Linked DNA regions of Homo sapiens. The protein of the gene in region 1 purifies or fractionates together with the protein of each later gene. This does not show direct contact. Each region holds a gene or a part of one and is shown in the gene's direction. Other genes may lie near its edges.

Region 1 (4,153 bases):
CTTTGGGCCCACCGTCTGCCAACTTTAGACTTTCAAGACAAGGTCTAAAGGTAGTGTGGTGGGAGTGGGTAGAGTGGGCAGGAGTGGATGGGCTGAGATCAGAATGTGAAAAGCTCTCAATGTAAGCGCTGTCTCTCAAACGCGAGGGCACATGAGTCACCCAAAGTGCTGCTGAAGTTTGTGAAGCGCTACTGGAGGCAGTCCCAGAGGGCTTTGGAGCAGGAGAGGGACGCGATGAAAACAAGAGCTCAGAAAGATTAATTTGCCAACAGTGTGCAGACTGGAGATCAGCAGACAGGTTATGGGCCACAGGGTGGCAGACTTGAGGGCTCCTTTAAGGCAGCGACCCCGGCCCTGCTGAAGGGAGGCTGGCCTTCGGCCGCCCAGGCCGTCTCTCTAGTTCCGTTGGAAGCAAGGCGCTGCGTGCTCCGGACGGCTTACTGAGGGCACTTTGGGGAATCCGTCCCCACGGGCGAAGTATAGGTGGGGTGTTCGCGAACCGGCGGGCGGAGAGCACCGGCAAGAACCCCCGCAGACCGGAGGGCCACGCCTCTCGCTCCTCGGCTCATTGCAGGCGCCCACATCCCACCCCGCGGTGCTGAGCGAGGCGCATCTCGCTGCCATGGCGACCGCCTCCATGGAGACCGGGAGCAGAGGCTGCGGTCCCCGGGGGCGCGTCACAGGCTCTCCCAGCCCCCAGCCCGCGTGCCTTCTTTGTTCTGATGCTTCTCCAGGCCGGGCCAGGCACCCGGGACGCGTCTCGGGCCCGCACGGGGGTTGCTTCTTTCGAGACAGGGGATGGGGTGGAAGGGGAAGAGGTCCAAACCCTGGGGTCGAAACAGGAGTGATGGAGGGTTCCTCAGCTCCTGAACGAGACCAACACGGCCCGTATCGATGGCCGAAGCCGGCGTGGAAGCCCAGGGAGAAAGGCCACCTTCGGGAGCTCCACCCAGCCCCGAGACGCGCCCGACAGCCCTCCCGAGAGCGAAGGGCCCAAGGGAGGTGCGTCCTAAGCAAGGTTCAAGGCTAGAGGCGCTATCCCCCAGGCGGAAGAAGGAGCGGGGGCGGGGCCTATCCGAGGCCCTCCTTCTCCCTCTTCGAGTGGTCGGTTCTGGCCCCTGGCCTAGTTGGGCCGCCTGCCCGTCTTCCTCGCGAGAGCTCGCCCGGCAGGCGCGGACTAGCAGGGCGCTGCCTCGGCGACCCTGGCACGTGACGTAGGCGGCCCTCGCCAGTTGGCCGTTCTTTGGAGCCCGCTCATTGGTCCGGAGCGTCCCTCGCCCCACCCTCCCAGATCAACCAATGGGCGGAGGCGGGGGCGTGCCGACGGGAGGGCGGCCGCGGCGCGGGGCTCCCTTCCTCGTGCTCGGCGTTGAGCTCCTGCAGCCGCCGCCGCTGCAGTGGTCGTCCCTGCCCTCCCCGGCCCCGGGGTGCACCCCGCAAGGTGAGGCCACCCCTCTGCTCCCTGCCTCCCGGTTCCTTCCCGTTCGCCGAGGTCCCCTCCCGGTCCCGGCCCTGTCCTGAGCAGTCAGTGCCTGGGACCCCAGCGGCCGTGATGGCAGGGCTGGGGTGGGGGGCTCCGCTGTCGGGGCCGGGCCTGGAGGACTCCCCAGCACCTGAACTAGAGTGATGTCAGGTTCCCGGGGCGCAGTGACCGTTAGCTGGTGCAGCTGGGGTGTTTTCCGCGAAGCGATTGTCCGGGGGCATGAGTGCGGTAGTGAGGGCGGGGGCGTAATGGGGTCAGCGCCCCCTCCTCCCCACGACCCTGTTCATTGCCGCTGCCTCGCTGCATGACCTTGGACCAGTAGCATCTCTGAGCCTCCGAGCCTCAGCACCCTCAGGAAGGAGGGCAGTGATGTCTGGGAGTGCGGGCTCCGGAGACTCCTGCGTCAGCCGAGGTGAGTGAAGGTGGGGAGTGCACAGGATTATCTCCGAGGGACAGAGCCGCCGCCTCGCAGCTCAGGATGGATTGGATGGGGGGGATGTCCGATTACATTTCCCCCCTCCCCCTGAGATGACAAGAATGGGGTGTGGCGGGGGTGCCACACCCACAGGGATGGCTGCCGGAGAGGATAAAGGGTCCTACACCTGGACCCTTGGGGCCTCGGGGGCTTGGGCTGCACCTCCCTCCCGGTGGTATGAAGGAGGAGGGACTGGATTTAGGTTCTGGACCCGTGTTTCCATTAGTAAGCAGGGACTGAGAAAGGGAAGTCTCCGCTTGCCTTTCTTCTTGAATCTTGGCACTGGAAAGTGGAGGTAGGGCATTTTTCTGCTCCGGGGAGTTGAAGAAAGTCGGGGCAGCACCCCATCCCTCTCCCATTCTGGTCTTTTGTGGAGGGAAAATGTAGCTGGATATCCCCCCACATTCTATCCATCCTGAGCTACGAGGCAGCAGCCCTGTCCCTGGGAGATAATCCTGTGTGCTCCCACCCTCACCTTGGCTGACCCCCTGGATCCAGCCTGGCCTCTGCTTCTTGGGACCTCTGGATCACAGGCCCAGGGCAGGGCCTAGGTGGGGCATGCTATCTGGAGGCTAAGCACCCACTAGCTGAGGGCAAAGTGGGGAGAATGCTGGGCAGAGGAGGGCAGCACTTGTTGGGGAGGCAGGAAGGTGTGGGTGGTGAGGGTCCCTTCTCCATATTCCCCCACCCCCACCCCCAGCACCTCACTGTTAGAAGGAGAGAGAACAGCCATACTTATCTTTGCACCTTTGGCCCACTGGAGGGAGAAGGAAATTAAATCACATTAAAGCTGAGTTGATGTGAAGCTGCCACAACTACTGACCTCCAGCCTTGCCTTTCCAGGCTTTGTTCTGAGTATGTGTGGCCTCTGCTGTGTCCAGTCCTGAGAGTCAGCGGGTCAGTGTGGCCCCATCTCAAGGCCTCAATGGCTGTTCTTTTCACAGGCGTGAGCTTTAATGGGAGGCTACACAGTGCTTCTGCTGGACTGAGTGCTTGAGCCAGGACTGAGCCCCAGGCTGGGGTAGGAGAGGAAGAGGTAGGGAGGGTGGAAGGTTGCGGAGTTCCTGGCTCAGAGAGAAAGACCTCGAACCACAATGAGAATGGGGACTGAAGAAGGAATGAGAAATGAGGTCTCAGACGTTGGGAGCATGCTGACCAGAGGTGAATGGGTGTAGCTCCTCTTCCTGCACCCTGGGCTGGGGCCTGGAAGCTTGCTGACACTCCATCTCATGGGGAAGGGTATAATTTTTTTTGCTGGCGGGGAGGCACCATGTTCCTCCCTAGTCATTTCCCAGTTTCCCAGGATGTTCATTCTGCACATCTTCCTTGTGACCCCCTCTGGTTAGGGGGACTGGAAACTCCCAGCATCTGTTCTCTGACCCTCCCTAGGGACCTGGCTGCTTTGGGAGTGGGAGAAGGGGGAGGCAGGAGGAGGGAGGCCCCCTCACCCCTTGAGCTGTTTTCCAAGAAGGCTGACGTCCCTGGGGCCCACTCTAAGGGTCACTCCTGGCTCCTCCAGGATTGGCCTGAAGTGCCTCTCTGACGGTGCTGCTGAAACTGCTGTTGCTTTAGAAACCAGGCCTTTGGGGGTTTGCTTTTGCAGAGATGGGGGGTGCATTGTCACAGAGCTTCAGGCACAGTTGCAGCAAACCCTGGAAGGAAGAGGCCACTGCTTATTCCTGTGTTACACATTAGGAAACAGGGACAGAGAAGTGAAAGAACTCACCCATGCAGCTAGCAAGGGCAGATCCTGAATTTGAACCAGGACTGCTGCCTCTGGGGGCCATGTGGATTGAGCCATGGTGAGGCCTTGGTTGGCACAGGAGGAGGCTGGAGGCAGGGCCAGGCTTGGGGTTGTGTGGTGGCCTAGCTGTTCTCTGTGGACACAGCTGCAGCAGGGGAGGCCCAGTGCCCTCTTTGCCTGTTTCTGATGAGGAATTGTGTGTGCACAAGAGTCTAGCTCCCCGAGGACAGCGACCAGCAGGTTCTCCATTGAGAAAGGAGGTTTGGTTTTCCCAGTTTCCTTTGGGTTCCTGAAGTCCCTTGCTTCCTGCCTCTATGTTGTCACTATCCAGAGGGTTACAGGCCCTCAGTGTTTGCCCTTTACTGAGTACTGGCACTGCATGAGATGTGGGTCCTACCCTCAGTGGGCATGGGGCATGTCCCTCTCAAAGCAGGCATGGACAGGTAACCAG
Region 2 (3,657 bases), on another chromosome or scaffold:
GCCTGTAGCTCCAGCTGCTTGGGAGGCTAAGATGGGAGGTGAAGGTTGCAGTGAGCTGAGATCGCACCACTGCACTCCAGCCTGGGTGACAGAAGGAGACCCTGTCTCAAAAAAAGAAAAAAAAAAAAAAAGGCTAATGAAAGAACAAAATAATAAAGACCCAAATTTCTACTCTTCCTTCCACAATGTAACTTTTCCTGGCTTCTTGTACTCTTGATTAAAATTCAGAAAAAGTTATGTCATGTTGAGTATCATCACTTTGACCTTGTTTTTAATGTTTAATTCTGTTTTCCAGGCTGGCAGTGATGGTGAAAGCATAGGAAACTGCCCCTTTTCCCAGAGGCTCTTCATGATTCTTTGGCTCAAAGGAGTTGTATTTAGTGTGACGACTGTTGACCTGAAAAGGTAAGACATGGTCGCAGTTTGCAATCAACTTAAGCTGAACTATCTTTTCAGTTTGATCCTATTTTCACCTTGATGGCACATATTCTCTAAAGGAAATATATTGTATTAAAGTTCTGCTGGTTTATGGACAAACAACTTGTATATAACTATTTTGGACAAGTCACGCTGTCAGTATACTGCGTGGCTACTCAGTCTTTTTTAGGAACTTTTGTATGTTTACCTTAAATTTCATGAGTAGCACTAGGAGCTAAGTGTTAGTGTGGATGCAGTGAAATCCTTGACTTCTTTTTTCCAGTGTAAACATGGAGTCATGAAGAGCTTTCTAAGCAGACATCATCTTGGCCCCAAATGTGTTAAGCATGTGATCTTTATAATCTGGATCTTCAAAGACAAGGATTTTTAGGAGGTTGAATACCGTTGTTGTCAATTTCATTTAATTTATTTTTCAGAGAATAACAGTAATTTTCTATAGCATTTTAGCTATAATGCAAGTATTTTAATCATATTTGTTTAAATGTATTGTAAAATAAGAGCAATTATCTGTGGCCCGGTGTCTGTTCTTGCTAAGTGAAGAGTTGTTTGTAGGTTTCTCTCCTGGATGACTTTATGGCTTATTTTCCATAGTGGAGAGGGCTGAGAAGAGCCGTGATGAGTAGAAAGCTCTGTTTTATTCAGGAATGTCTATTCACCTTTAGCAAACAGGTCTGAGGTGAAGAACATTCATACATCCCCTTCCCCAAAAGATTTAAATCAAGGGTTAAGAATAGTTGTATTGCTCTTCCTCTCCCTCTCCCCACGGTGTCCCTCTCTTTCCACGGTCTCCCTCTCTTTCCACGGTCTCCCTCTCATGCGGAGCCGAAGCTGGACTGTACTGCCGCCATCTCGGCTCACTGCAACCTCCCTGCCTGATTCTCCTGCCTCAGCCTGCCGAGTGCCTGCGATTGCAGGCACGCGCCGCCACGCCTGACTGGTTTTGGTGGAGACGGGGTTTCGCTGTGTTGGCCGGGCAGGTCTCCAGCCCCTAACCGCGAGTGATCCGCCAGCCTCGGCCTCCCGAGGTGCCGGGATTGCAGACGGAGTCTGGTTCACTCAGTGCTCAATGGTGCCCAGGCTGGAGTGCAGTGGCGTGATCTCGGCTCGCTGCAACCTCCACCTCCCAGCCGTCTGCCTTGGCCTCCCAAAGTGCCGAGATTGCAGCCTCTGCCCGGCCGCCACCCCATCTGGGAAGTGAGGAGTGTCTCTGCCTGGCCGCGCATCGTCTGGGATGTGAGGAGCCCCTCTGCCTGGCTGCCTAGTCTGGAAAGTGAGGAGCGTCTCCGCCTGGCCGCCATCCCATCTAGGAAGTGAGGAGCGGCGCCTCTTCCCGGCTGCCATCACATCTAGGAAGTGAGGAGCGTCTCTGCCCGGCCGCCCATCGTCTGAGATGTGGGGAGCGCCTCTGCCCCGCCTCCCCATCTGGGATGTGAGGAGCGCCTCTGCCCGGCCGCAACCCCGTCTGGGAGGTGAGGAGCGTCTCTGTCCGGCCGCCCCGTCTGAGAAGTGAGGAGACCCTCTGCCTGGCAACCACCCCGTCTGAGAAGTGAGGAAGCCCCTCCGCCCGGCAGCTGCCCCGTCTGAGAAGTGAGGAGCCTCTCCACCCGGCAGCCACCCCATCTGGGAAGTGAGGAGCGTCTCCGCCCGGCAGCCCCCCCATCTGGGAAGTGAGGAGCGTCTCCGCCCGGCCAGCCGCCCCGTCGGGGAGGGAGGTGGGGGGGTCAGCCCCCCGCCCGGCCAGCCGCCCCGTCGGGGAGGGAGGTGGGGGGGGTCAGCCCCCCCGCCCGGCCAGCCGCCCCGTCCGGGAGGGAGGTGGGGGGGTCAGCCCCCCGCCCGGCCAGCCGCCCCGTCCGGGAGGGAGGTGGGGGGGTCAGCCCCCTGCCCGGCCAGCTGCCCCGTCTGGGAGGTGAGGGGCGCCTCTGCCCGGCCGCCCCTACTGGGAAGTGAGGAGCCCCTCTGCCCGGCCAGCCGCCCCGTCCGGGAGGGAGGTGGGGGGGGTCAGCCCCCCGCCCGGCCAGCCACCCCGTCCGGGGGGGGGGGTCAGCCCCCCCACCTGGCCAGCCGCCCCGTCTGGGAGGTGAGGGGCGCCTCTGCCCGGCCGCCCCTACTGGGAAGTGAGGAGCCCCTCTGCCCGGCCAGCCGCCCCGTCCGGGAGGGAGGTGGGGGGGTCAGCCCCCTGCCCGGCCAGCTGCCCCGTCTGGGAGGTGAGGGGCGCCTCTGCCCGGCCGCCCCTACTGGGAAGTGAGGAGCCCCTCTGCCCGGCCAGCCGCCCCGTCCGGGAGGGAGGTGGGGGGGGTCAGCCCCCCGCCCGGCCAGCCACCCCGTCCGGGGGGGGGGGTCAGCCCCCCCACCTGGCCAGCCGCCCCGTCTGGGAGGTGAGGGGCGCCTCTGCCCGGCCGCCCCTACTGGGAAGTGAGGAGCCCCTCTGCCCGGCCAGCCGCCCCGTCCGGGAGGGAGGTGGGGGGGTCAGCCCCCCACCCGGCCAGCCGCCCCGTCCGGGAGGGAGGTGGGGGGGTCAGCCCCCAGCCTGGCCAGCTGCCCCGTCTGGGAGGGAGGTGGAGGGGTCAGCCCCCTGCCCGGCCAGCCGCCCCGTCCGGGAGGTGAGGGGCGCCTCTGCCCGGCCGCCCCTACTGGGAAGTGAGGAGCCCCTCTGCCTGGCCACCACCCCGTCTGGGAGGTGTGCCCAACAGTTCATTGAGAATGGGCCAGGATGACAATGGCGGCTTTGTGGAATAGAAAGGCGGGAAAGGTGGGGAGAAGATTGAGAAATCGGATGGTTGCCGTGTCTGTGTAGAAAGAAGTAGACATGGGAGACTTTTCATTTTGTTCTGCACTAAGAAAAATTCTTCTGCCTTGGGATCTTGTTGGTCTGTGACCTTACCCCCAACCCTGTGCTCTCTGAAACGTGTGCTGTGTCCACTCAGGGTTAAATGGATTAAGGGTGGTGCAAGATGTGCTTTGCTAAACAGATGCTTGAAGGCAGCATGCTCGTTAAGAGTCATCACCACTCCCTAATCTCAAGTAATCAGGGACAAACACTGCGGAAGGCCGCAGGGTCCTCTGCCTAGGAAAACCAGAGACCTTTGTTCACTTGTTTATCTGCTGACCTTCCCTCCACTATTGTCCCATGACCCTGCCAAATCCCCCTCTGTGAGAAACACCCAAGAATTATCAATAAAAAAATAAATTAAAAAAAAAAAAAAGAATAGTTGTATTAAT

The links.
Region 2: the proteins of ADISSP (region 1) and CLIC4 fractionate together in Homo sapiens (co-fractionation; one large-scale study listed by BioGRID). This does not show direct contact.

What each region holds. Positions count from the first base shown.
Region 1 is NC_000020.11:3,764,951-3,769,103, reverse strand, and holds the start of ADISSP (adipose-secreted signaling protein), read left to right. Parts: upstream 1-1,350; 5' UTR 1,351-1,441; exon of another isoform or gene 1,442-1,895; intron 1,896-4,153. UniProt on the Homo sapiens protein: Adipocyte-secreted protein (adipokine) that acts as a key regulator for white adipose tissue (WAT) thermogenesis and glucose homeostasis at least in part through activation of protein kinase A (PKA).
Region 2 is NC_000001.11:24,797,447-24,801,103, forward strand, and holds part of CLIC4 (chloride intracellular channel protein 4), read left to right. Parts: intron 1-295; coding exon 296-405; intron 406-3,657. UniProt on the Homo sapiens protein: In the soluble state, catalyzes glutaredoxin-like thiol disulfide exchange reactions with reduced glutathione as electron donor. Can insert into membranes and form voltage-dependent multi-ion conductive channels.